Homo sapiens: one gene and its partners. The protein of the gene in region 2 purifies or fractionates together with the protein of the main gene of each other region. This does not show direct contact. Each region holds a gene or a part of one and is shown on either strand. Other genes may lie near its edges.

What was found.
Region 1: the proteins of GNA11 (region 2) and ATPAF1 fractionate together in Homo sapiens (co-fractionation; one large-scale study listed by BioGRID). This does not show direct contact.
Region 3: the proteins of GNA11 (region 2) and PI4K2B fractionate together in Homo sapiens (co-fractionation; one large-scale study listed by BioGRID). This does not show direct contact.
Region 4: the proteins of GNA11 (region 2) and TMEM248 fractionate together in Homo sapiens (co-fractionation; one large-scale study listed by BioGRID). This does not show direct contact.
Region 5: the proteins of GNA11 (region 2) and TTL fractionate together in Homo sapiens (co-fractionation; one large-scale study listed by BioGRID). This does not show direct contact.
Region 6: the proteins of GNA11 (region 2) and SYT17 fractionate together in Homo sapiens (co-fractionation; one large-scale study listed by BioGRID). This does not show direct contact.
Region 7: the proteins of GNA11 (region 2) and POGLUT1 fractionate together in Homo sapiens (co-fractionation; one large-scale study listed by BioGRID). This does not show direct contact.

What each region holds. Positions count from the first base shown.
Region 1 is NC_000001.11:46,636,946-46,641,009, reverse strand, and holds part of ATPAF1 (ATP synthase mitochondrial F1 complex assembly factor 1), read left to right. Parts: intron 1-4,064. UniProt on the Homo sapiens protein: Has a complex stabilizing activity in the assembly of the mitochondrial F1-F0 complex.
Region 2 is NC_000019.10:3,096,910-3,100,973, reverse strand, and holds part of GNA11 (guanine nucleotide-binding protein subunit alpha-11), read right to left. Parts: intron 1-4,064. UniProt on the Homo sapiens protein: Guanine nucleotide-binding proteins (G proteins) function as transducers downstream of G protein-coupled receptors (GPCRs) in numerous signaling cascades.
Region 3 is NC_000004.12:25,250,859-25,254,922, reverse strand, and holds part of PI4K2B (phosphatidylinositol 4-kinase type 2-beta), read right to left. Parts: intron 2,603-4,064; coding exon 2,448-2,602; intron 1-2,447. UniProt on the Homo sapiens protein: Together with PI4K2A and the type III PI4Ks (PIK4CA and PIK4CB) it contributes to the overall PI4-kinase activity of the cell. This contribution may be especially significant in plasma membrane, endosomal and Golgi compartments.
Region 4 is NC_000007.14:66,937,948-66,942,011, reverse strand, and holds part of TMEM248 (transmembrane protein 248), read right to left. Parts: intron 165-4,064; coding exon of another isoform or gene 147-164; coding exon 1-146.
Region 5 is NC_000002.12:112,495,393-112,499,456, reverse strand, and holds part of TTL (tubulin--tyrosine ligase), read right to left. Parts: intron 1-4,064. UniProt on the Homo sapiens protein: Catalyzes the post-translational addition of a tyrosine to the C-terminal end of detyrosinated alpha-tubulin.
Region 6 is NC_000016.10:19,223,358-19,227,421, forward strand, and holds part of SYT17 (synaptotagmin-17), read left to right. Parts: intron 1-1,325; coding exon 1,326-1,481; intron 1,482-4,064. UniProt on the Homo sapiens protein: Plays a role in dendrite formation by melanocytes.
Region 7 is NC_000003.12:119,482,172-119,486,235, reverse strand, and holds part of POGLUT1 (protein O-glucosyltransferase 1 precursor), read right to left. Parts: intron 909-4,064; coding exon 849-908; intron 1-848. UniProt on the Homo sapiens protein: Dual specificity glycosyltransferase that catalyzes the transfer of glucose and xylose from UDP-glucose and UDP-xylose, respectively, to a serine residue found in the consensus sequence of C-X-S-X-P-C.

The DNA of each region.
Region 1 (4,064 bases), on a different chromosome or scaffold from region 2:
TTTTGAGTGGGCAAGTCTGGTAATGAGGGGTTGATCTTTACCAGGAATATGACAGCAGGAGAGAAGCCAGAGTATAAGGACACTGATAAAATTAGATGGATAGAGGTAGTGGTATAAGTTTCCTACAGATTGCTCAGTGAAAAGAAAGAAAAGTTCTCATCAGCTGAAAGCAAGGTTGGAAAAATGTTGGACATTTGAGTCAAAAAGAGGAAGTACAAAATTGTTGTCTAGGACAAGCGTCAGCAAACTACAGCCTATGGGCCAAGTCCAGCCCACTGCTTGTTATAACGCCCACGAGTTAAGAATGTTTTCTACCTCTTTAAATGATTAGGGGGAAAAACTCTTTTTTTGTTTGTTTGTTTGTTTGTTTGTTTTTGAGACAGAGTCTCGCTGTGTTGGCCAGGCTGGAGTGCAGTGGCACAATCTCAGCTCACTGCAACATCCACCTCCCAGGCTCAAGCAGTTCTCCTGCCTCAGCCTCAAGCAGTTCTCCTGCCTCAGCCTCCTGAGTAGCTGAGATTACAGGCATGTGCCACCACACCTGGCTAATTTTTGTATTTTTAGTAGAGACGAGGTTTCACCATGTTGGCCAGGCTGGTCTCGAACTCCTGACCTCAGGTAATCGACCCACCTCGGCCTTCCAGAGTGCTGGGATTACAGGCATGAGCCACCACGCTGGGCCAAAAACTCTTTATTCTTAAAGAAATACAGAAATTATTTAATAACAAAAACTATTATTAAAGAAAAATAGTATTTCAAGTTTTATTAGAACACAGCCATATTCATTTATTTACATATTATCTATGGCCTGAAGGAAGTTAAAGGTGAATGCAAAGGAATGATTATTGACCATGGAATGGAAGCTGGGTAATGAGGAAAGTGAAAATATAAGGGAGGTTAGAGACAGTAAGAATTATGAGTCCTAATGGGTTGTGGGAGTTGGAAGTGAGCTGAAAAGATAGGAAATAATTTGATCATGCAAGTGAGTGACAATATAGAGATTGTACTATATTTTCTGGTCTTCGGCAAAGCACAGCATCTAATCATATTAAAAGTGGATCCTAAAGGTCAGAGGAGGCCCATTCTGCTGTTTGCCATTTTTACCACCTCACTCTGGTGGTCTCAAACTGCTGTGCAGTTCTCATCATTGTTAAAATTTGCTTCCTGGCCTTTTAACATTTGACAGCATACAAGACAATACATATTTGCCTTGTATAAATCAACTTGACTGTGAGGTTCCGATGTAGTGTAGAACTAGACATGTTAGAACTTGTTGTACATGACTTAGAGAAGAGAAACTTAGAAGTATAAGATGAATATATGATCCCCTGTATACTCATGCATGAATTGTGCACTTTAGGCATAGTATTTCCAACTATGGTAAAGCATTAATGTCAAATGAATAGAAATACATGGAAACTAGAGATTTCTTCTGAACTAACTTTAATGCTAAAAACTAATGGAATATTTAAAAACCTAGCTTTATTTGGCTCCACATCTATGTCAATAGATGATTTCATTGAAATGCAGTAAGTGCTAGGATAGACATGCAGAAGGTTCTAGGGATAGAGAGTGGGGTGATATCCCTGGCCCAAAGGGAGTAATATTTCCTGGAGATGACACCCAGACTGAACCTTCAAACAGCAGGAGTTAGCCTAATAAAGAAGGGGAGAAATGTTTCCGACAGAGGGAATAGCATAAGTAAATGCTGAGAGACATAAAATGACTTGGAGTATTGTAAAGAGTTTGGTATCACTTGTGTGTGTGTGTGTGTATGTGTGTATATGTAAGGTTTGGTGGTTTTTGTTTAGAGATTTGGCTTTACCCTGAGGGCATGAAAAGAGTCATTAAAGGGTTTGAACAGAGAAGAACCCATAAAGAGATGGATTTTAAGACCTAGCCTATTAATTATTAACTTTAATTATTTGCTTCCTAAACATTGTGTAGTTCAAGTCTAGTCAGTATGATAATTTAGAAGTCAGTTGCAATAGTCTGCACAAGAAGTGGTGAAAACTTGAACTACAGCAGTGGTATAGAGATGGAGGAAAGAGAATGACCCCAGGAATATGTAGGGAATAAAATAGTCAGGACTTGGTGCGTTGATTGTAGATTTGAAAATTGAAAGAGAGGGAGGAATCAAACTTGTTAAAATACCTCTTTATTGAGCAGCACAGGGAATTAGTATGTTTATCTTATTGGGTCTTGGAAAAGGAGGAGACTGTTGCTTCATGTTGAAAGCCAAGAGAATAAAAGGCAGGGGGAGAATAAGGGCTGGTGGGGGTTGCCTTTCTATAACCCTCCATGAGAGGTAGACATCTCTCTCTGTGTCTTACCTTCCTATCCTACTCACTGTACTAGTGGTCTTCAAAAACTTTTTTTTTTTTTTTTGGAGACAGTCTTGCTCTTTTCACCAAGGCTGGAGTGCAGTGGCTGGATCTCGGCTCACTGCAAGCTCTGCCTCCCGGGTTCACGCCATTCTCCTGCCTCAGCCTCCCGAGTAGCTGGGACTACAAGCGCCCACCACCACGCCCAGCTAATTTTGTTTTTGTATTTGTAGTAGAGACGGGGTTTCACCGTGTTAGCCAGGATGGTCTCGATCTCCTGACCTCATGATCCGCCCACCTCGGCCTCCCAAAGTGCTGGGATTATAGGCGTGAGCCACCACGCCTGGCCCAAACTTCTTTTTAAAGTAGTAGGAGGACCCCTTTATCCAAACAAAATCTTACTATGTAAAACCCCAGGATATGACAGCTAAAACAGGTGAAGGGACCTGAGGCACCTCCACAGAGCACCTAGGACTCTACAGAATAGTTTGAACAGCAGTGTTGTAGTGTGAACACAGCTGAACTTACTCCTACCTTCCCACCCCAAGCTTCAGATAAAAGTTGATGTCAGAGGCCCTGTAGCCAGGGGCTGAGAGAGTGGTGGTATCCTCAGATTATAGCAGTGCACTTGCTTCAGAAATGATTTGCTCTTGAGGCATGTGTGAATTTAAGAAAGGTAAAATGGATGAAGTAGTTATTGGCCTTCATCAATCTTAATTATCTTGCCCTACCAGAAACAGAAGGATGAATTGGGGGGAATACCAGCCAGGGAGTCTAGAGGTCTAGTCCTGGCTGTGACCTTGGCTGGCCACTTGACCTTGAGCCCATCCCTGAACCTCATCTGCCTTGGTTTCCTAGCCTATTAAATGAGAACTGGGTGATCTCTGAGGTCCCTTCTAGCTCTAAAATTCTATTAATTTGAAGTAGCCAGCTTTTTGGGAAAAGGTTTTTGATTGAAGATGCAGTCTCAGAGATTAGTGCCTGCTCATGAGAAATGTCCTGAAAGTCCCACAGAGGGAATAGAGATGGAGCACAGCCCATGTTATTTATAAACCCGTCTTCATCATTCTCTAGCTAGACATAGCACACTTTTGGCAGTAAGTTTTTAGTGGGAATTTTCCATGACCTTTTGGGGTTTAATTTTGGCTATATGAACATGGTGATAATGGACAAGTACCTCTGACCGACTAGAACTGCAGAATGTATAGCAAAAGTAAGAGTTGTCTGAGGTGACTCTTTTGCAAAGTTTGAGAGTGTAGCCCGTGTTCTAACCCCCATCTCTGTCATTTTTTAATTTTTATTTTTAGAGATAGAGTCTTCCTCTGTTACCCAGGCTGGAGTGTGCTGGCATGACCATAGCTCAGTGCAGCCTCAAACTCCTGGTCTCAAGCAATCCTCCTGTCTCAGCCTCCCGAGTAGCTAGGACTACAGGCTCATGCCACCACATCTGGCTAATTTCTCTGCCTCTGTCATGTAGGGTGGCCTGCTCACCATTTCTCTGCTATTGCTCACCATTTCTCTGCTACTGCCCTTCTCTTCCCTGGGCCTTTGCTGATGTATTAGTTATAAATGGCTGCATAACAAATTATACAAAATCTAGTGGCTTAAAACAACAAACATTTATTACCTCGCAGTTTCTGTAGTAGCAGCTTAGCTGAGTGGTTCTGGCTCAGGGTCTCACAAGGTTGCTGTCAAGATGTTATCTAGGGGTATAGTCATCCGAAGGTTGATTGGGCTTGA
Region 2 (4,064 bases):
GCCATCCAGGGAGCACCACCGCCCAGGGTTACTCCGCAGCTTTTCGGTGCAAAGCAGCCAGCAGGAAGGGCAGCCACAGGGGACAAGAGGGCTCCCTCCCCGCTGTCTGCCGCACTGGCCTCAGCTCATTTAATCCTTCCACAATCCTACAGGGGGAGGGACAGCCTTCCCACGTGACCGATGGGGAAACTGAGGCCGGGAGAGGGAAGTGACTCGCCCCTGGCTCCCTCCAGAGTGTGCCCCCACTGCCCCGTGCTGGCCAGCCCAGGGCAGCCCAGGCCACAGGCAGGACTCAGAAAGAAGCTTCTGAGAGCCAGCTGCGCACTGTCCCCGGAGACCCCTTCTGCCCAGTGCACAGGCCCACAGGCAGGTGGCAACCGAGCCTGCCCCAGCAGAGACCCCTGGCGTGCACCAGACCAGCCTGCAGGGCATTGGGGAGGTGTCGGGCCACTCCTCTCCACTTCCCTGCGTGATCTGCCTTCAGTCAGCCAATGACGGTCACTCGCCAAGCATCTCTGAGACCTGCACAGCTCAATGACATGGGCAGGGAAGCAGGGGACCAAGGACACGCAGCTGACGATGGCGACGAGAAGGGAAGGGGGCTGCTAAGACACACGGGTCAGGGGTCCTGCTCCCAGGGACACTAGGCGATGTCTGGGGACTTCTGTGGTTGTCACAACTTGGGGGTGCTCCTGGTCTGGTGTGGGTGGAGGCCAGGGACGCTGCTCAGTACCCTGCAGTGCCCAAGACAGCTCCACCCCAGAGAACGATCCAGTGTAAAACACCCACGGAGCCGAGGCTGGGGAATCCTGATCAAGGTGTCTGTGGGCAGATCCCAGATCCCAGATCCCAGGGCAGGATCCCCCATGGAGCAGTTTCTCAGAGCACCCAATGTGTGCCACACACGCCAGGTGCTGTGGACGCGACAAGATATCACCACACCGGCAGCGGAAGCAGCAGCCAGCATTCCGTGGGTCCCCACGTGCGGCAGGATGGGGATCACCACCGAGTCCTCACCCCACCGCCCCCTGAGGAAACTGAGGCACAGACCTGAAGTCCCACAGTTACAAGAGGCAGAGGTAGGCTCTGAACCTGAGTCTCCCCAGGCCACGTACCTGATCCGGACACCACACTGCTCCCAGGCCCTGCAGGTGGCCCGAAGACCCACCCACCAGTGCTGTCCTGAAAGCGCCTGTCGGCAGACTGCGGGAGGCCAGGCTGGACCAGGAACCCCCACAGCAGAGACCATCGGAGGCTTCTGACCCAGAGGCAGGGAGTGGGGATGGAGGGTGGGAGACTGGACCACAGACATCTTGATGGCAGGGGAGGGATGTGGCCAGGCCCAGATGACAGCGAGAGTCTGGATCCAGGGCAGCCAATTCTAAGACCTGCCAGGTGCCCTACAGATGACAGACATGGTGGGAGGCCCCCCGGGCGGGATGCTCCACACAGGGCCTGGCGGCAGGAGCTACATGCACCTGCAACCACCTGCACGCCAGCAAACCGGCACTTAGGATCCCGGTTCTGCGAAAGGACTTAATTTCTGCCAGATAATGACCCTGCACGTGGGCCTTCCCAGAGCCCCTGGCCGCCCCTAATCGCATCCACCGCTCTCAGTCACCCAGGTGGGCAAGCCATACAAGGCTTCCCATCCTCCACGCACAAGCTGGGGTGCCCAGTGGGGAGAACACAGCCCTGCTGGGGACCCAGAAGGGGCGCTGGGTCCCAGCTGTCTACAGGGTAGGGCCGAGCAGGCCCCGCGAGCGCCCCTCTAAGATCCGTCCGACTCCACCACACACCTCTCCAACCTCCTGATGCCACGGCGTCCTCCCCGTGCTGCCCAGGGTCCAGGTCCCAGACAGAGACAGGCTCCACCACAAGACTCAGAAAGTGAAACCTCTCGTGGTTAAATCTCGGAGGAAAGCACTTCCTCCACTCTCACTACAGCACCGGCAGAGCCGGGCAGGAGGCTCGGGAGGAAGCTCCACGGAGCTCACAGCTGTGGAACGGAGCTTCCCGGACCATGCCCGGGAAAAGCAGACCCTTTCAGCCACAATCATCATAACTGATTACATGTAAACACAAAGGACGTGAGAGCAGGCCCGGACCAAGTCCCCACGTCTCCCTGGCCTGGGCTCGGGCTTGGGAAGTCAAGGTTGGACGAGGCCATCCAAGGGCGCTTCCTGCTCCCAGAGTCTTCTGGGACACGGCACAGCCACCCTGCCAGGCGCCAGAGGCCACGCTCCACGCCTCCCAACACTGGGCCAACAGAGGCCCGGCCCTTCCCGTGGGGCCACCGCACCCCATGCTGGATCCCGGGCCTTGTCACTGCCCCGTGGGGGCTGGCGCAGGCCGGACAGGAAGCCTCCGGAACTAACCATCCTGCTTTATTTAGAAAGCCTGGAGCCACTCCGGCTCAGCCTCGCTAGCAGCCTCAGGCCCTGGGAACAGGCATTCCCATGGAAGTCCCCACGTTTCCAACCACAAACCTGCCACAAAGAACTATACGGGGGTCCCCTCCACAGTTTACCAGTGAGACGGAAACCTAACAGCCGAGGGCTGCCCGTGATAGGCAGAAGCCCAGCGGGCCTGGGGAATGGGAACCCAGATCCAAGAGCTGCTGGCAGGGCCTGCAAGAGCTCTCCAGGCCACAGGGCGGACCCCAGGATGGCGGCGGCGCGGACGGAGGCGGGAGCAGCGTGTGCACTAAGTGCGCAGTACGTGCTTGCCACTCCTGTACCCATCCACAGCTGTCACCAGCATCGACAGAAGTGTGCATAGGGACAAACCTGGAATACCACGGGTATAAAACAATACATGCATTCACATTCATGCATACACTGAGTAGTGAATTCACACACACACGGCTTTGACGGTGCTTAGAAAAATACTCTATAAGCACTCATGGAAACTTCTGACAAAATAATTTGCACTCATTATCCCTCAGCTTTGCCACGAGCATTTTACGTTGTACGCTACCACACAGTAAAGGGTCTCAAATGGGGGCAACGTGCCCCCCAAGGGACAATGGGCACTGTCTAGAGACATCTGTGGTTATCACGACTTGGGGGAGCTCCTGGCATGGAGTGGGTGGAGGCCTCGGACACTGCTCAGCACCCTGCAGTGCCCAGGGCAGCCCCACCCCAGAGACCAACCCGGACCAATGTGCACAGGGCCCCGGGGAGACCTGTTGTACGTAACGGAGAGGCCCATCTGAGGCGTGAACAGCACATTTTAGCCGCCGCGGGAGAGGCGGCACGGCAGCCGGAGCCCCGTCCAGCTCTAGGGCTCCGTAAGGTCCCCCCCACCCCGAAAACGGGGCACGGAATGTCCTCGCCAGGCTGACCGACCTCACAGGCCGTGTGCAGCCCCAGGGAGGCAGTGGATGAGAGCGAGCAGACGCGGCGTTCTTCCAGAACATGCTCCACCTGGTTGCAAACCCAGGAGTCAGGGCAGGGCCCTGGAGCCCTGCTGCCCCAGAGCCTGGAAGAAACCAGCACCACCCACATAAACGAGACCCTCCTGGGCCCCAGATGCCACAGGGGTGTGGTGGCAGGCCCCTGCCTCCCTCCCCGACATCCACTCCACAACGCTGTACGGGAGCCATGGGGGAGGAGGGATGGAGCCCCCACTGCTAAGGGGCAGGGGAGGAAAGAATTCTAGGGAGAGGCAGACCCAGCTTGGCTGGGCCTCCTGCGGAGTGCCAGGACCTCCACCCAGAGGTCTCTGAACATTCCGTGGGCCGCAGGCGCCATAGCCACCTGCTGCAGCCCAACAGCCCCTTCCTTCCGGGGAGCCTCGGCCCCACCCTCTAGCTGCTCCCTGAAAAACGGGGGCAATCGCAAGCTCGGGGCTGGCCTACTGGGAGAGTGGAATGAGTTCCCACAAGCAGGCAGGGAGCCTGACAGAGGTCCCCTCCCCTGCACCCTGAGGCCCCAGCCCCTGGACCTCAGGTGGTCAAAGTCCTCCCAGCAAGGGGCCCTCCAGCTGGGATGCAAGGTTGCTTGGACGGGAAGTTTTCTGAGGGTCTGTCGCATCAGATTCCCAAAGGGGTCCCTGGCTCC
Region 3 (4,064 bases), on a different chromosome or scaffold from region 2:
ACCTCAACTATTAAGAGATTTAGTTCCAATCACATTTTCATATTCATTCTTATTCAACAATCTAAAATCAAGACCAGTTTTCAAACTGTGCTCTGACAAACCCTGGGAAGGTGGGGGCAAGGCTCCAAGACCCCATGCCACTTAACCAGATTAACTCTAATTTCACCTGTTTTATATTGCTGGACTTCCAAGTTAAGAAACAGTTTCACTGGGCCGGGCACGGTGGCTCACACCTGTAATCCAGCACTTTGGGAGGCCGAGGCGGGCGGATCATGAGGTCAGGAGATCGAGACCATCCTGGCTAACATGGTGAAACCCCATCTCTACTAAAAATACAAAAAATTAGCCGGGCGTGGTGGAGGGCACCTGTAGTCTCAGCTACTCAGGAGGCTGAGGCTGGAGAATGGCATGAACCCAGGAGGCAGAGCTTGCAGTGAGCGGAGATCGCACCACTGCACTCCAGCCTGGGTGACAGAGCGAGACTCTGTCTCAAAAAAAAAAAAAAGGAAAGACTTTCACTGATTTTTAAATGTTTCAAAACCACCATTCTAGGTCAAACAGTGTTATTATTCACTATCTATTAAATATCCACATTACATGTTTGCTGTTTACTTTCCCCACATTAATGTACATTCTAATAAGGCAAGGACTTGGTTTGTTAGGGCTGCATTTCCAGTAGTCAGAACAGTATCTGATGAACAGTGGACATCCAAGTATTTGTTAAATTAACTAATCCAATGACAAAAACTACCTCTAAAATACAAATATAATGATAAGATACAGTGTACATCCATGCTGTCAGATTCTCGTACCCTAATTCTTTTCCAGCTATTTTTTCAGGAACCAATTTAAAGTAAACTCTTGGCCAGGCGCTGTGGCTCACACCTGTAATCCCAGCACTTTGGGAGGTGAGCAGATCACTTGAGGTCAGGAGACCAGCCTGGTCAACATGGGGAAATCCCGTCTCTACTCAAAATACAACAATTAGCTCGGCGTGGTGGCGAGCGCCTGTAATCCCGGCTACTCAGGAGGCTGTGGCAGGATAATCGCTTGAACCCGGGAGGTGGAGGTTGCAGTGAGCCGAGACTGTGCTACTGCACTCCAGCCTGGGCGACAGAGTGAGAATCCATCTTAACAAATAAATTGATTAAATTCTCTCGTATTAAAAAATCTTTTTTTGCTCATGAATGTCTAAAAGTCTCTGTACTCTTATTGTTTGATACAATATACTCATATTCAATTTAGAAGCTGAATTATCCTTAGACAAGAACAAATCTTATTATAATTTTAAGTATATAATTGCTTTATAACACAATAAATATAATGCAATAAGGTCTGAGTCACTAGTAAAAAAGTCAACAAGATCAAATTAAGAAATCAAGCTTAGAATAAAGATTGAGAGATTGACAGTACCTTCAAATACATTTTAATCTTAAAAAAGGGACTATGCTTTAAAATCATTTTAAAAATAGAACTTCTATCTTTGCCAAAAAAATTGGGTGAAATTATAAACGTTATTCCCCTGGAGAAAAGAACTGCTCATTATGCATCATTCAGAAAGCTTTTAGAAAAAATAACATATTTTTGAAAAATTCTAGACTAAGTGGAGCAAAGTGCCACATCAACTTCTCTTTTCCACTTTAGAATCATCCTGTGGTTCATTTCACTTTCACATTCCAATACTTTCAAGCTTCAGATTGCTAAGCCTCCTTCCCCTGGTAAAATGCCAGAAAAGGTATTCACATACCTTTGAAAAAAAATCAAGTACTTTGGAAATGACATTAAACAACTTTTGAAGGTTTAACCTTCCACCGTGTTTGGCTATTAAGGTTATAGACTTCCATAAGATAAGGACTTGTGAATATATATACTCAAAAAGGCTACAGCTGAATGTGGGTATTCAATAAATGCTTGAAACCAAGTATAAAATAACAAAATAGCAAACTGTGACTTGAACTGATTAGCTCTGTTTCTAAGCACTAGAGTGCTTTAGTAAAAGCAAAACATTGAGGCTGGGCACAGTGGCTCACACCTGTAATCTCAACACTTTGGGAGCCAAAGCCGAGGTTTGCTTGAGCCCAGGAGTTCAAGACCAGCCAGGGCAATATAGGGAGACCACCGTCTCTACAAATAATTACAAAAATTAGCCCAGTGTGGTGGCACGCAACTATGGTCCCACCTACTTGGGAGGCTGAGATGGGAGGATTGCCTGAGCCCAGGTGGTCAAGGTTACAGTGAGCTATGATTGCACCACTGCACTCCAGCCTGGGTAAGAGAGGGCGACCCCGGGCGTCTCAAAAAACAAACAAAAACTGACCTTTGTTTTGGAAAAGAGGTTACAATCAGACTTAATAGGAAAATATCTTTAGAAACTCACAATGATTTCATATTTAAATTAGTATTTACCAAAGTTTCCATTACATATAATAGGTCTGTGAAATTCTCACCCTCTTAGGATCCTTCACAAAGTAACTTCCACTTGAACCTTGAGAGATTCTTTCTGGAAAAATTCCAACTTCTATTGCTTGCTCTGCTCTCAGCATAATATCGGCAAATTCTGGGTCATCCAAGAATGCATTCATCTCTGAAGTACCAATAGTTACTGCATTAAGAAGAAATACCAGCTATGAGAATGCTCATGATATGGACCTGTAATATCGATTAGCTTGCCGGTATCAGGATATAAGGTACAGAAAAATGTAATCAAGATTTGTATAGACTGCTCTAATCCTCCTTCCCCCCACTGCCTAACAACCCCCACTTCTCTTAAATTTCCAAATAATAACATGGGGGCGGGGGCGGGCACAGTGGCTCACGCCTGTAATCCCAGCACTTTAGGAGGCTGAGGCGAGTGGATCACCTGAGGTCAGGAGAGTTCAAGACCAGCCTGGCCAACATGGCAAAACCCCGTGTCTACTAAAAATACAAAAAATTAGCCAGATGTGGTGGTGGGCACCTGTAATTCCAGCTACTCGGAAGGCTGAGGCAGGAGAATCACTTGAATCTGGGAGGTGGAGGTTGCAGTGAGCAGAGATTGCGCCACTGCACTCCAGCCTGGGCAATAAGAGCGAGACACCGTCCAAATAATAATAATAACAACAACAACAACAACAACATGGGAGGAAGTTAACTGTTCATTAAAAATAATACTAATACCTCTCATTTCTTTGAACTTCGGTCCTGCAATGATTCTATCATCCATCCTACTTCATCCTCTAGTTCCCCAATCATATCTCGGATTTTGTCAATACCAGTAACTGCAACCTCACCACACTTTCAATTTCAAGCACCTCCTGTCTTCCCAGTTCAGTCCCTCTGGCACTCCGAGTCCAAATATTCTTCTGCCCTACTAGAACCTACAAAGGACTGCTCCCCCACGTCACTGGAATTCTCTCCCTTCATGTCCTTGCTTCCCTCCTCCTTGGCCAGCTTAAATTATGCTGGGTCTTCACAAAATCAACTCTTTCTTTCTCCCTTCATCATGGTCACCTGCAAAACTCCCAGTCCTGGTTAAACCCAACTGTCTACCAACTCCATGCCTGCACCAGGGCAGCGGAATTAAAGAAATGCACATGAGCCAATTTCTCTCCTCAAATTCCCAACACCTCCTCTTCCATCCTCTCTCTCAGGAGAGGATCTAGCTTCCTATTTCATTAAGAAATAAGCAGCAATCACAAAATACTACGACCAGCCCCCAGCACTGCATTTATTACCAACTACTTAACTTTGGAATGGCCCAGGTTCCATTCACAGTCCTCTTCTCTCCGTTACCAACACTGGTGACTCCCAAATTTCTAATTCAAGCCTGGACTTCTGCCCTAAACTCGACAACTGTATTCAACATCTCCACTTGGATGCGTAATAGACATCTCAAACTTCACTACCCAAAACTTCATTCTTCACCTTTACGCCTCCCAAAGGCTTCATCCCTACGTTTCCCATATTGCAGTTGCTGGCACCTCCAAATCTTCCAGTTGCTTAGGCCAAAAACCTTATAATCATCCATGATCTCACACGCTTACCCTCTACATCCAATCAGCAGGTTGTATTGGCTCTACCTTAAA
Region 4 (4,064 bases), on a different chromosome or scaffold from region 2:
GGGGATTTAATCTCCTTGATTTTGAAGAAGTAGCCCAGGGTCAGGAAAGCTATGGCCATGGCGCTTACGCTGATCATGAAGACCACCAGGGGAGGCCGACTGCTGATGTACACCTTCAGGTTCTCCAGGGGGTTGATGCTGAACATTATTCTGATCAGCTCCACCTGAAAGAAATGAATCAGAAGCTTCAAGGACTGACTTGCCAACAGGAAAGCTATGATTCTTTTGTTTCCTTTTGAGGTGTTGGGGGGTGAGCTGGGTGGGATGGGCACTCATTACTGAATTTGAGAAATGTCGGATCATAACTTCATTCAAAAGACTAGAAGGAAGAAACACTAAATGTTAACTGCCATTACCTCAAAGTGGCAGGATCCTGAATACATATTCTCTTTCAGTTTGAATCTTCTAAATATTGTGTGTGTGTGTGTGTGTGTGTGTGTGTGTGTGTGTTTTAAGAAACAGGGTCTCTCGTTCTGTCACCCAGGCTAGAGTGCAGTGGCGTGATCATAGCTCACGGCAGCCTTGAACTCCTAGGCTTAAGCTATCCTCCCACCTCAGCCTCCCGAGTAGCCAGGACTAAAGGTGTGTACCACTATGCCCGGCTAATTTTTTTTTTTCTTTTTTTTTTTTTTTGAGACGGAGTCTCACTCTGTGACCCAGGCTGGAGCAATGGTGTAGTCTTGGCTCACTGCAACCTCTGCCTCCTGGGTTCAAGTGATTCTCCCACGTCAGCCTCCCAAGTAGCTGAGACTACAGGCATGTGCCGCCACACCCAGCTAATTTTTGTATTTTTAGTAGAGATGGGGTTTCACCATATTGGCCAGGCTAGTCTCGAACTCCTGACCTCGTAATCTGCCTGCCTTGGCCCCCCAAAGTGCTGGGATTACAGGCGTGAGCCACCGTGCCCGGCTAATTTATTACCTTTTAAGAGATGGGGTCTCGCTATGTTGCCCAGGCTGGTCTTGATCTCCTAGCCTCAAGCAATCCTCCTGCCTCAGCCTCCCAAAGTTCTGGGATTGCAAGTGTGAGTCACCGTACCCAGACTCAATCTTCTAAATATTCTATAATAAATACTGTTACTTCCGTATCACTTAAGAAAAGGTTTAGGTGGGTCAGTAATGTGACACAAATACACAACATGTACAGAAAGAAAGTGAGGATGCTCTCATTTCCTGCCACTGAAAAGCTGAATTCTATTTATTCGACATTCTGTCCTGCTCATTGCCATATGGCTCACAGCCATCCCAGCCCTGCTTAAAAGCTCCTAAGGCTTCTACCAGACCTAGGAGAGGTCGGCAATAGCTCCCTGTCATGGCCCACAGGGTTTTCAGGACTCAGAAGCCCTGCCAGTCTCCCTGACTGCATCACCATCCACTTCCCCTCCTCCCTCCTGGGCTTTGGCCACACTGGACTTGCTATTCTTCAGGATCATCTTGTCAATGTCTGCAAGGAAATCAGCTGGGACTGACAGGGACTGCACTGAATCTGTGGATCGCTTTGGGGAGTGCTGCTCTCTTAACAAACAACGTTGTCTGCTAGTCAAAGAGCCTTGCAGACCTTTCCATCTATTTAGCTTCCTTATTTGAATAATGTTTTCTGTTTTCAGTGTTAACGTTTGCACTTCTTTTATTAAGTTTATTCATAAGTATTTAATGCTTCCTGCCATTTTTGACCATGATGTAGCTGAAGAATTTTGTATCTGCCTGGATGCTTTCCCCAAACATTTCCACGTTTGCTCTTCTTAAAACGCACATCTATGGCTGGGCGCAGTGGCTCATGCTTGTAATCCCAGCACTTTGGGAGGCCGAGGCGGGTGGATCACTTGAGGTCAGGAGTTCGAGACCAGCCTGGCCAACATGGCAAAACCCCGCCTCTACTACAAATACAAAAATTAGCCAGGTATAGTGGTGCACACCTGTAATCCCAGCTACTAGGGAGGCTGAGGCAGGAGAATCACTTGAACCTGGGAGGTGGAGGTTGCAGTAAGACAGGATCACGCCACTGCACTCCAGCCTGAGGGACAGAATGAGACTGTCTCAATTAAAAAAAAAAATGCAAGTCTCTGTTTAATAGCCAGCTCCTCAGAGCACACCTTCCCTGGTCACCCTCAGCCCCTGCTTTATTTCCTTTATATTGTTTAGCATCAACCAAGAGCACAATTATTTTCCTACTTGTTTACTGTTTGTCATCCCTCATTTATGAGCCCAACGAGAGCGGAGATTTTGCACACCTTCCTTGGTCACCCTCAGCCCCTGCTTTATTTCCTTTATATTGTTTAGCATCAACCAAGAGCACAATTATTTTCCTACTTGTTTACTATCTGTCATCCCTCATTTATGAGCCCAGTGAGAGTGGAGATTTTGCCTGTCTTGTTCACAGCTACAGCCCTGGCCCCTGGCCCCTAGAACAGTAGCTGGCACACAATGAGCACTTATAAACACGAGCAAACTGCGACAACATTAGCAAAAAGCAATTTTTTAAAAAGTCTGTATCAGCGTTTAAATTTTAGAGACAAAAAGATGCATCAACAGCCCCTAAAAATCAACAGCAACACATTTTCCATGCCACTTTCACTCAACATTGTTTTTCTGACATCTCTGTTGATCTCTGTTGATCTAGTTCGTTGAATTTCACTGATGTATATATGTAATTGTTCTGTGGTTGAGTTATTCCAGTCTGAGGGGCCTAGCTGGGTTCCTGTTACTGTTTCACCCACCAAGCGCATTGCAACAGGTACAAGAGTGGCTGTAGTACAACAAAGTCACAGAGTAGGGCCTGTCTTCAACCTGATATTGTCAGACCACTCTCCAAGGAGATCAACCAGTTTACACTTCCCCAGCAGTGAAGGAGCCTGCTCCATTCCATGAGATTTGTGCCAACACTTGATTTCCTAAGGCATATTAATATGGTCCAAAAAGACAGATGTGAAATGATATCTCTATTATTTTAAATGGTATCTCCCTGAAACAAAGCATCTTTCCGCTTTTTTAATCAGCCATTTAGGCCCAATCTTAACTGAACTGCCTGAATCCTCTGGTAAGTTACTAATAGGGTGTTAGTCTATTTCTTATTGATGTTTAGAAATTCCTTTTGTGTTTTGGGTACTAAGCCTTTAACAGTTTTATATGTTACGTATAATTAATCCAAGTCTGGGTTTTCTTTAATATGGTTTATGGTATCTTTTGCCATATGAAAGGTTCTTGAGAAGCCAGGCACAGTGGCTCACGCCTGTAATCCCAGCACTTTGGGATGCCAAGGCAGGTGGATCACGAGGTCAGGAGTTCAAGACCAGCCTGGCCAATATGGTGAAACCCCGTCTCTATGAAAAATACAAAAAGTAGCTGGGCATGGTGGCATGTGCCTGTAGTCCCAGCTAGTTGGGAGGCTGAAGCAGGAGAATCAGTTGAACCCGGAGGGCGGAGGTGCAGCAAGTCGAGATCACACCACTGCACTTCAGCTTCGACGATAGAGCGAGACTCCATCTCAAAAGAAAACAAAAAGAAAAGAAAAAGAAAGGTTCTTGATATTTTTAATAGTATTAAGAAATAATTCACATACCATACAATTCACCCATTTAAAGTATACAATTCAATGATTTTTGGTATATTCACTGATTTGAACAACAACCCTCACTATCAATTTTCAAATGTTTTCACTGTCCTATAAAGAAAGCCCAACCTATAACAGATACATAAAAAATAAAAAGAAATTAAAACATACCACCAGAGAAAAATCACCTTCACTAAAATGAAGACAGGAAGGAAGGAAAGAAAGAAGACAAGACCACAAAACAACCAAAAAACAACTAACAAAATGGCAGGAGTAAATCCTTACTTATCAGTAACAACACTGAATGTAAATGGACTAAACTCTCCAATCAAAAGACACAGTGGCTGAATGAATAAAAAAACCAGATCCAACGATGTGTTGCCTACAAGAAACACACCCTACCTATAAAGACACACATCAAATGGAAATAAAGAAATAACCGGGCGCAGTGGCTCACACCTGTAATCTCAGCATTTTGGGAGGCTGAGGTGGGCAGATCACCTGAGGTCAGGAGT
Region 5 (4,064 bases), on a different chromosome or scaffold from region 2:
GATATCCACCTTATCTAGTACAATTTGTTGAAAAGTTTATCCTTCCTCTATTGAATGGCTTTTGCACCTTTTTCAAATATCAGATGGGCATATATGTTTTGGTCTATTTCTGAGTTCTCTATTCTCTTCCACTGATTTATGTTTCTTCTGTTTTTGAGACAGAGTCTTGCTCTGTCACACAGTGGTGTGATCTCGGCTCACAGCAACCTCTGCCCCCTGGTTCAAGCAATTCTCATGCCTCAGCCTCCCGAGTAGCTGAAAGTACAGGCATGCGCCACCACACCTGGCTAATTTTTTTGTATTCTTAGTAGAGATGGGGTTTCACCATGTTGGCCAGGCTTGTCTCGAACTCCTGACCTCAGGTGATTCAGCCGCCTTGGCCTCTGCTGGGATTTCAGCCGAGAGCCACCGTGCCTGGCCCCACTGATTTATGTTTCTATTTTTTCATGAATACTACAGTGTATTAAGTACTATAGCTCTAAAATACATCTTAATATCAGGTAGCATGTTCACTTATATTCTTCTTTTTCAAGATGTTTAAGCTATTCTAGGGCTTGTGCCTTTCCATATGAATTTTTATTATTTATTTATTGATTGAGATGGAGTCTTGGTCTTGTCGCCTAGGCTGGGCCCAAGCGATTCTTCTGCCTCAGCCTCCTAAATACCTGCGATTACAGGCGCCCGCCACCATGCCTGGCTAATTTTTGTATTTTTTAGTAGGAACAGGGTTTCACCATGTTGGCCAGCCTGGTCTCGAACTCCTGACCTCCGGTGATCCACCCGCCTTGGCCTCCCAAAGTGCTGGGATTACAAGTGTGAGCCACCGTGCCCGGCCCCTCCATGTAAATTTTAAAAGAAGCTCCATGTCTATACAAAAATGTTGCTAACATTTTGATAAGAACTACATAAACCTATAGACCAGTTTAGGGTGAACTGACATCTTTACTATACTGTCCTGCAATCCATGAACACGGTATGTCTGTCCATTTCTTTAGGTCCTCTTTGACTTCCTTCATAATCATTTTACTATTTTTAGCACACAGAGCCTATACATGTCTTGTTAAATTTATACCCAAGCATCACATTTTCTCTAGGGTGACTGTAAGTAGTACTGTAGTTTTTTGGTTTTTTTTTAGACGGAATTTTTGCTCTCTTGCCCAAGCTGGAGTGCAATGGTGCGATCTCAGCTCACTGCAACCTCTGCCTCCTGGGTTCAAGCGATTCTCCCACCTCAGCCTCTTGAGTAACAGGGATTACAGGTGACTGCCACCAAGCCCGGCTAATTTGTGTATTTTTATAGAGACAGGGTTTCAGCAAGTCAGCCAGACTGGTCTCGAACTCCTGACCTCAGGTGATCCGCCCGCCTTGGATTCTCAAAGTGCTGGGATTACAGGTGTGAGCCACTGCGCCCAGCTAAGTAGTTTTGTGTTTTTAACTTTGGTTTCCACATGTTCATTGTTGGCACATAAAAATGTGATTAAGTTTTGTGTGTTGCTCTCATATCCCGTAACATGGCTGAACTCACTCTTTAGTGAGTTGTCACCACTTCTTATTATAACCATTTTAATAAAAGTGTAGTGACAGTTCGTTGTGGTTTCAGTTTGCTAGAATCTTCTGATCTATGCTTTAGATTTATAGCTGATTTCTACCTGGATCTCATGCTTTCTTTATAAATGAATTCAATTCAGTTCATTAATTCAATGATCCACCTTTCCCAAACGTTAACGCCCTTTTCAACTATCTTCTTCCTGTCACTTGTTCGACCATCTGGTGAGCTTCTTGAACAAGAAACTGCAAATCAACCTGGAAAAGCTCCCTTATTCTCTTCCCCTACACACATGACTCATGCTGTTTCATCTCCCTTAGGAATCAGACTCAGATTTTTTGATACAACAGTATCAAAAATTATAAAATAAATTTGAATTTTATGTATCGTTTTATACCTACAAAATAAGAAAACAAAAATGGTGATACTTTTAGTAAAAGTTCGTCATGAACTGCTCCCTGTTAGCTCACGGCCCTTTGAAAAAGCAAGAGGATAACACAGAGCAAGAGCCATAAAGGCTTCATATCATTTGACCAAGTAATCTCATGTTTCAAACTTACTCTAATGAAATTTTTAAGAAGAAACAAGAGTCAAGGCTGGGTGTGATGGCTCATGCCTGTAATCCCAGCACTTCGGGAGGCTTGAGGTGGGAAGATCACTTGAGCTCAGGAGTTCAAGAACAGCCTGGGTAACACAGTGAGACTTCATCTCTACTAAAAATCAAAAAATTAACAGGGTGTGGTGGTGCACGGCTGTCGTCCCAGCTACTCAAGAGCTTGAGATGGGAGCGGGCCCGGGCACGGTGGCTCACGCCTGTAATCCCAGCACTTTGGGAGGCTGAGGCGGGCGGATCACGAGGTCAGGAGATCGAGACCATCCTGGCTAATGTGGTGAAACCCTGTCTCAACTAAAAGTACAAAAAATTAGCCGGGTGTGGTGGCTGGTACCTGTAGTCCCAGCTACTCGGGATACTGAGGCAGGAGAATGGCGTGAACCTGGGAGGCGGAGCTTGCAGTGAGCTGAGATGGCACCACTGCACTCCAGCCTGGGTGACAGAGTGAGACTCTGTCTCAAAAAAAAGAGGTTGAGTTGGGAGGATCGCTTGAGCCCAGGAAGTCGAGGCTGTAGTGAACTGAGATCATGCCATCTCACTCCAGCCTGGGCAACAAAGTGAGACCTTGTCTCAAAAAAAAAAAAAAAATACACACACACACACACACACACACACACACACACACACACACAGACACATATATATATAAAATAAAAAATTAAAATTAAAAAAGAAACAAGGGTCATCTACAGCAAAGACATTTACTACTGTTATCTGTAATAGTGGAATAATGGGGTTGTTTCTAAACAATAATTTTCTGTTATAGATGTAGTGTGTTCCCACGCTCCAGGTGAGAGGTGAAGGTGGCTAGATTAGAAATAGGCAGTGGACATGGTAAACAGTAGCTTCATAATGGGTAGAGTTTGAAGGTTGAGCCAACTATACAAAGCATGTAGTGGGTACCAAATAAATACTTGTTTAACAAGAATAAAAACCATTCATTCATCCTATTGGTTTCATTTTATGGTTTCCAAACATAATAAATATATATCAAATATATATCTCTTCAACTCTTAAAGCAAAAAGTCTTTAGCATTTTATTCTCTCTTGACTTCCCCCTGCTGCTTGGTGTCCCTCTGAGTCTTGTCTTAGTGAGGGTCCAGGGATCACCAGGTGTCCTCACAGTGGCCATTCTGACTCCAATCCCAAACCCACAGGAGAAGGGATGTCTATTTCCTCTTCCAAATCCGTCATTTACCATTGGAACCACACTAGGGGGCAGTAGTTGAGAAAAGGTCACAAGAGGGGAGAGAGAAGTAGGTGAGATACCTGACTTGTGGCAAGAGTCCAACTCTCCCCCTTTCAGGGATACCAGTTGAGGCCTTCCTGTCTCATCGCTGGTGGAAAAGAAGGTGAGGTCCCTTCGACCCGGAACAGAAATGAGTACCAATGGCTAGATGTCTTCCAAGGCAATACAAGAAGTGAGTTCAAAATGGAATGGTTTTTTTTTTAATTTTTGAGAAGGAGTCTTGTTCTGTCACCCAGGCTGAAGGTGCGATCTCAGCTTACTGCAAGCTCCACTTCCCGGGTTCACGCCATTCTCCTGCCTCAGCCTCCCGAGTAGCTGGGACTACAGGCACCCGCCACCACACCCAGCTAATTTTTTGTATTTTTAGTAGAGACGGGGTTTCACCGTGTTAGCCAGGATGGTCTCAATCTCCTGACCTTGTGATCCGCCCGCCTCGGCTTCCCAAAGCGATGGGGTTACAGGCAGTGAGCCACTATGCCCAGCCAGAATGGTTTTATAAAGAGCGTATGAGGGCATTAACATAGACAGAGATTGTTTATGTGTTCATTACATTGGGAACTGCCTCTATTTTCAGCCTGAGTTAACATTATAAACCTTACCCCTTACATGCATTCATTCAACATATATTTGTTGACTGCCTATGAGGAAGGTACAAG
Region 6 (4,064 bases), on a different chromosome or scaffold from region 2:
CTTAAAACCTATTTGAACCCAAGGAAGTGACTTGGCCTTTCCAAATGCTATTCCTGCAATGTAGACGCCATCCTGCAGGTGGCGATAGTGTGCATTGACTATCCATTCTAATCAATGAGCGTGGAGGACACACCCTAAGGTTTTTCGCCAGCTCATTTCATGTGTGCCATAAATTTTTATGAATTCCAACTCTGAAAAGACTTGTATTTAAAGTGTGTATATTATAGCAAAAACCATTCAAACATGACTTTTAATGGAACGGAACAGATTCCATTCCATCTGCATGTTGCTTCTTCCATGACAGCAAAGGATATTACTGTGAAAGCAGCTGTAGTCAGGGATCTGTTCAGCTCAGTGGTGGAATTATTGTCTTCTCTAAGTGCGGTAGCTAAAATAAATTACTTTTGCAATAAGGTGACAGCTAGAAGACACCTTGCATTCTCAAAAGCCACATTATAAAAACAGAGGCTTAGAAAGGGCCAGTGGAGGCAATGGTATTAAGACTGAAGAGTTTCAGACTCACCACGATGGGAGAGTCAGTATGATAAAATCATTAAGGGTTTAGGAGTCAAATGATGTGGCTTACAAATGATGTGGCTTTAGGGAAGTTACTTAACCACTATGTGCCTCAATTTCTCAATCTCAAAAACTGACATAATAACAGTATTCATCTTGATAAGTTGTTTAAACAAATATTAAATTAGATAATGTACATGAATCCCTTTGTAAACTGTAAAATGATCTAAAAATGAATTATAATTCTGCCATCTCTATTCACCTGTATATGGGCTATGGGCTCACTGAAATGATAATGGGTTTCCACAGACAGAAATCCAGGGCAGGCTCTGAGTCTGGTTCTGTGTCCACCAGCAAGATCTTTAAAAACTGATTTCTCACCTTGAGTCCTCAGTTTTCTTATCTGTAAAATGAACACAATGCTGACATATGGGAGGAGCTCAACAAATATTAGATGGCTAAAGGAAGAAGGAAGGGGATAAGCAGATGAATGGGAAAATGGATGGATAATAGATGGATGGATGGTTGAACTGTCAAATAGATGAGAAATTGGATGGATAGAAAATGGATAGATAAAAGTATGGTGAGATGATGAATGGATCAGTGAACTGACGGATGGAAAGATGGATGGATGGATAAACAGGTGGATGAATGGACGGACTATGAGATGAATGAAAAGTTGAATGGGTGGATGGATAGAAGAATGGAGGAATAAAAAGACAGATGGATGGGAGGTTGAATGGCAGAATGACTGGACGGATTAGGTTTCATGATCTCCAACATTCTATGATGCTGTGTCTAATTTTCAGACCCCTTTGTGAAAATCCAGCTGGTGCATGGACTCAAACTTGTGAAAACCAAGAAGACGTCCTTCTTAAGGGGCACAATTGATCCTTTCTACAATGAATCCTTCAGCTTCAAAGTTCCCCAAGAAGAACTGGAAAATGCCAGCCTAGTGTTTACAGGTAGGTAGCATTCCAAAACCCGATGAACTCCAGGTGAGGCACGTCAAACTTACTGTCCTAGAGCCAGAAGGCATCTAGAGAGAGTTACATTTAAGAACGTAATGTCTGGCATTCAACTACCTGGGTTTGAACCCACTTAACATCTATGAACTGGGGCAGGACTCATAGAGCCCTATAATATAATTGTTAGAAATGTGGACTTGAGCCAAATTTCCTCAGACTGCCACATAATAACTGAGGTCTTTGGCAAGTTACTTAACTCCTCTGAGCTTCAGTTTCCTCATCTACAAAATGTGAACAATAATAGTACGTGTGGCATAGGTTTGTTGTGAACAGTAAATGACTTACGACTTTGCAATATACTTGGTACATAATAAGTACTCACTATGTGTTAGTTTTGATGATGATGGTGGTGATGATTCAAGTTCCCTGCAGTCAAATAGAGAGGCATATGAAAAAACAGTGTCACCTAACTCAGAAAAAGGGATTTTTAAAGTCTTCCCAGAGGATGTAGTATTTAAGTAGAGGCTTCATGTGACACTGTCTGGTAGAATTTAGTCCATTTTTCCAGGGTGTAATCTAATGTAGTATTTCCAGGGTATATTAGTTATTTATTGCAGCATAATAAATCACCCCAAAATTTAGTAGCTTGAAACAACAAACATTTATATCTCATAGTCCCTGTGGGTCAGAAATTCAGGTATACAAAGCTTTGCTGTATAGTTCTGTGTGAATACCTCTGACAAGGCTGCAATCAAGGTATTGGCTGAGGCTGCAGCCTCATCTGAAGGCTCAACTGGGGGAGGATCTCTTTTCAAGCTCACTCACAGTTTTCAGCATGATTTAGTTCCCTGCAGGCTGTTGAACTGGGGACCTCAGTTCCTTCCTGGTTGTTGGCCAGTGACCTTCCTCAATTCCTTGCCACATGGGCTTTACCATAGAACAACTCACAACATGACTTTCATCAGAGTGGTCAAGTGAGGGAGCAAGAATGGCAAGGAAGAGTCTTTTTGTAATCTAATACTGGAAATGACATCCTATTACTTTCATTATATTCTATTCACTAGAAGCAATTCACTAGGTCCAGCCCACACTCAAGAGGAAGGGATTACACAAGGGTAGGAAGAGTGGGAGGTGGGAACCACTGGGACTCATCTTAGAAGCTACTCACCACAACAGGGATAGAGTTAGTAGGAGTAATGGTTATTCTTTCTTGTGTTCTAATTACAGTATGTACTTCCCTATATCATTGCTAACATTCACCATAACCCACCCTGTCAAGTTGATATCTTCATCCTCAACTTACAGATCTAGGGACTGAGGCTTAAAACCTAAACAACCTACACAAAGTCTCAAGCTGATAGAATCAGGACTCAAGCTCTGGTCTTGCCAGCTCCACATATCAAGGGATCTATATTTCCTCAAACACCCAGGTAGGGCTAGAACTGGGGATCGACATCATCCTTTGAGACATCCTTCTCCAGGGTAACTGGAAACTCTCCTCTGGTTAGATCTTGTCTAGAACCCTGGGCTCCAGGTCTCCCAAGAAATCAATCCATGGCTGAAAAACCCTTGCATACAAGATTTCCCCTATATAAACTTATTGCTCCTTCTCACCAAGATTGCAAATGTCTATCCTCTGAGACCCCTTCGAAGCAGGTTGGTTCTGGGTTTTCTCAAGGCCTGTCACCCATAGAGTCTGCGTTGAATCAGGGGATGCCTGCCATATGCAGATATAATGATCCCTTCTAATGCAGTCTGTGATGGCTGCTGTCCGGATGGAGTTACAAATAGACAAGGGCCTCACTCTCTCCTAGGTTTCAGGCCAAGACAGAAGACCGTCACCCCTGACTCCTTAAATGGTGGACAGGCAGGTAGTGGGGCCTATTGTATATTAAACCAAGACACAGATAAAAAATGAAGTCTCTTTTCCCAAGTCCCTGCTGAGAATAAGGGACCTCCTATTGTAAGCTTAGATGAGGAGAGGACCCCAGGGGAAACTGAGAGCCCCCATGGAAAGCCCTGACACTTCATATTTTACTTAACATTTTATGATAAATGTAGCACACACGTGTTATAATGAGTGACACCATGAAAAGATGTGTAAGGACAGAGAATCAGAGGAGAACAGGGGTTATGTGCCTGTGCTGGGGAGCTGATGTCTGGGTCCTGGCTTTACCACTCACCTACTTTGGTGACCCTGGGCAAGATCTGCGTGCTTAGGTTTTCTCAGCTGTAAAATGGGGATAACAATACAGGACACTTCACAGGATTGTTATTTGCATTCAGTGAGATCAATAAACACACGGTGCTGAGCACTGTGCCACCCATAGTAAGCACTCTAGAACTGTTAACTGTTATTAAAGGGAAAGTTTAGTGTTTTCCTTTTTTCTCCCACACACATGGGGCAGCCACCACCTTCTCACTCCCTCATGCAGTTTTGTTTATTTCAGAGTGTTTTCTTGCTGTGTAATCCTTCTCCCCGCTTTTTTTTTTTTGAGACAATCTCATTCTGATGCCCAGCTGGAGTGCCATGGCATGATCTCGGCTCACTGCAAGCTCTACCTCCCAGGCTCAAGCAAT
Region 7 (4,064 bases), on a different chromosome or scaffold from region 2:
ACATATCCTCACATAATTTCAAGGGAGTCCTAAAACTCTTGAAGTCCAGACATGGTCCCCAAGTTAATTTGTGACTTCAAGATTTAAGAATCAGAGAAGTTGGTAAGAAACAGGACATAGTAGCTGGATAATCCATTTACCTCCTAAAGTCTAGCTCCGAAGTGAAGAGGAGGGTGAAGAGGGAGTATAATCTCTGGCAAGGACTCACTTGCTAAAACTACAAAACCCTGCTCCCTTCATGGTCTTTTCTATTCATCTGCTCCACAGATATTTATCATATATTGACATGCTAGGAACTGTTCTTGGCCTTGGGACTATGGAGCTGAACAACACAGGGTCCTCCTACTACCTTTGCCATTTTTCTCTTCTCTTTCCTCCCTGCTCCCTTCTTCATTTTCAGCAGTCTCAGTCTGTGCTCTTAACCACTATTTGGCAGCCACAGGGTGTGATAAAAAAGGCAGTCAAGAGATATGGTGATGAGTCCTGCTCTGCATTAACCAGCAGAGTACCGTGGCATGATCATAAGCTACTCCTAGGGACTGTAAGAAGACACCCATCTGTTGTGTTTGGCATCACATAATCAATGACCGACACATTTGTGACACTATGTAAAATATCTGTTAAATGACTGAAATGGATGAACTTTACTTCTTTGAATATCAACTCAATCAATGGCGATTTCGGCAAATAATGTGAATTATTCTCGAATCTAAAATTGTGATTCCACATTTCTTTCTTTGTTATCTTAGCTTTCCCTTTGAACTACAGAGCTTGTCATACCCTCAAAGTTACTTACATTTTACATTACTTGGAAGAATATCTTTGTAAAATGTCAGAAAATAACTCACCTTGATCCTCGGAAATATGCTGTAGAGTTTTTCTTTTTCCATGGCCACTGTGCTGCTGACCTAAGAATATAGAATTTAATTAGTTTCAATATATCTTTTTCAACTATATAAGAATGTGCTTTAACCATTTCTGAAGATTAGTTCAGAGCTTCATATTTCTTTTTTTTTTTTGAGACGGAGTCTCGCACTGTCGTCCAGGCTGGAGTGCAGTGGCGCGATCTTGGCTGACTGCAAGCTCCCCTTCCTGGGTTCATGCCATTCTCCTGCCTCAGCCTCCTGAGTAGCTGGGACCACAGGCGCCCGCCACCACGCCCGGCTAATTTTGTGTATTTTTTAGTAGAGACAGGGTTTCACCGTGTTAGCCAGGATGGTCTCTATCTCCTGACTTCGTGATCCGCCTGCCTCGGCCTCCCAAAGTGCTGGGATTACAGGCGTGAGCCACTGTGCCTGGCCAGAGCTTCATATTTCTAAGTAAGTCTAATCAAAGTCACTCAAAAGAAAAAGCCCTAAAGGACACTTTGTTTCCTTTTGCTACCATTTCATTGCTCTGGAGGTGCTACCCAGTTGTATCTACAAATCTACTCCCCATTAACAAGTTAACAACATTGAAAGAAAAGCCCCCAAACCCTGAAGGTCATGATTAGGTCTGTTTATAATTTGGCAAATGTGGATTTCCTCTGTACTTTAAGTAGGGTGCTACTGATGAAATTAATTATGTGTACAGAACTGCAAAAAAATAAAAAAGCATCAGAAATGGAATGAAAGGGAAATCACTCTCTGATTTTATGTTTTCCATAGGTGGGAAGTGTCATCAGATTTAGTTTGATATTTGAAAAGCACCTTTGTATTCTTAAAGCCAGACTAAGTGCTCTATAAAGATGAAGTCCTTGAAAGTCAGATCTCAGTACACATTACCATGACCAGCCTTCCTTACTGAAACTGCTAGCTCACAGATGCATCATTCTTAACTTGCTTCGTAGGAACCCTCCCTGCACAGAAGTCTGCACAGCATCTTCTCTGAAAAAGGAAGGGAAGGCTGAACTGAAGTTAATGAGGGATTGATGGGCTGGATTACAGTAACGGAGAAACTTAGGATATAAACTTTCTAGGCACAGGTCCTTTTCAGATACATATAATGTCATGCTGCTCATTTTCACTCAGCTGAGAACGCTGCTCAGTATTTTCCAGGCCCTCAGACCTCCACCCTCAGCCAACGTGGCTCATCCTCTGGCCTTTTCTGGATGGATCACCTTTACCTGATTCTCCAGTCTAAGGCCAGAACTATCTTGTTTTCCCCATACTTCTTCCTGCCCAAGCAGAGACACTATAGCACTGGATTTTTGTTGTTTTGTTTTTAGTGGAAAATGTTTCATGCTCCTCATGCAAAGTTCTCATGAAAAAGCATAAAGATAAAAGTAAGAAGTCGTCTGGAATCTCCCTGTCCAGAGGTAACAATGTAACATTTTAGCCGAGAATTTCCTTGCAATCATTTATTCATATTAGTAGCTTTCAACTGGGGGTAATTTTGCCCGTCCCTCCCACCCAGGGGACATTTGGCCATGTCTGTAGACATTTTTGATTGTTACTACTAGGGGACTGCTACTGGCATTTAGTGGGTAAAGATCAGAAATGCTGCTGAACAATCCTACAGTGGTTAGGACAGCTCCCAGGACAAAGAATTATCCAGCCCCAAATGTCAGCAACACTAGTACTGAGAAACTTTGCTCTATGTAACAGAGGTCACACCATACATACTGTTAGGTAACAATCTTAATAGGAAATATAAATAATAATAACAGCCAACATCTATATAGCACTTCACTATGTTACAGACATTGTTTTAAGTGCTTTGTAAATAAAAAATCATTCTCACAATCTTAAGAGGTAGGTTTTATCACCCCTATTTTACAAATGAGGTCCTTTAGAGGTTAAGCAACTTGCACAGAGTCATGCAGCTAATAAGAGCCAGGATTTGAACCCAGAGTTTTTAAAACCTACACTGCCTTTCCATTCATGCACGATATTCCATTTTATAATCTCTGGCAAAGACTCACTGCAAAAATTCCATTTTATAGTCATGTTATGATTCACTTCATCCTTTATTGATGGACTTTTAGGTAGTTTCCAACTTTCTGCTCTAAGAAACAACATGGTAGTAAACATCCTTGTACACAAATCTTTGCACATTCATCTGATTAATTCCTTAGGATACATTCTAGACATGAAACAGCTAGGTCAAAGGATACACAGTATACATTTCCAATTTTGATACATATTGTCAAACTATCTAACAAAACATGTATCAATTTATACTCAAAGTTACTTCTCTTTATTTCCTTGGCTCCTGGGGAAGCTGTGTTTCATATACACAAACCCAAACTGTGTATCACTGTTCTCTCTCTTTCATTCTCCTAACCTACCCATCCTCCCTCAAAAGACCTAGGTTAGGACTTGTTTCTCCAGGCAAGTGCTAACGGTGGCCACCACAGCCTGGTGCTACCCCAGCCCTCTTTTTTAAACCCTCTCTGACAGTAACAAATGAAATCTTCGATCTGTAAAGAACAATGAATTCTTCTACAGAGTGAAATATAAATCAGTGGGCACAAACTCCCAAAATATCAGAAAAATAGAATGAACAGTGGCAGGCAGACATCAGTGCAGATGGATAAACAAGCAGATTATTAAATTTTCAAGGTAACAAATGAACATCATTAGAGATTCTAAACAGAGGGTTCTAAAAAACAAAATTGTATTTCTATAACCATGAATAAATTCAATTGAATAAAATGGGAAGGTATCAAAAGAAAAAAGTATTCATATAAGATTAGACTTTAAAACATTCTATCTGCCTAAAAATTGCTTACTAGTTTACCTGGGGGAAAATGGTATTAATAACTACACGGTGGAGTAACTGGATAACACCTTGACCCCAGGAGTTTGAGTCCAGCCTGGGCAACATAGTGAGATCCTGCCTTTTAAAAATAAACAAACAAACAAATAAATAAAGTGACTCTTTCATATGTACTGACATGAAACAAAGACATGGAAAGATTACTTAGATACACCAATAAGTTAGGGGGAAAGTTGCCTGAGTTATACATATTTGTAAAATTTTATGAGCATATATAGGTTTCATAATCAGTAAAAATGTTTTTAAAGATTTTGAAAACAAAGCAGCTGCATGGCAGGTGGGAAAAGAGCTACAAAAAGAAGAAT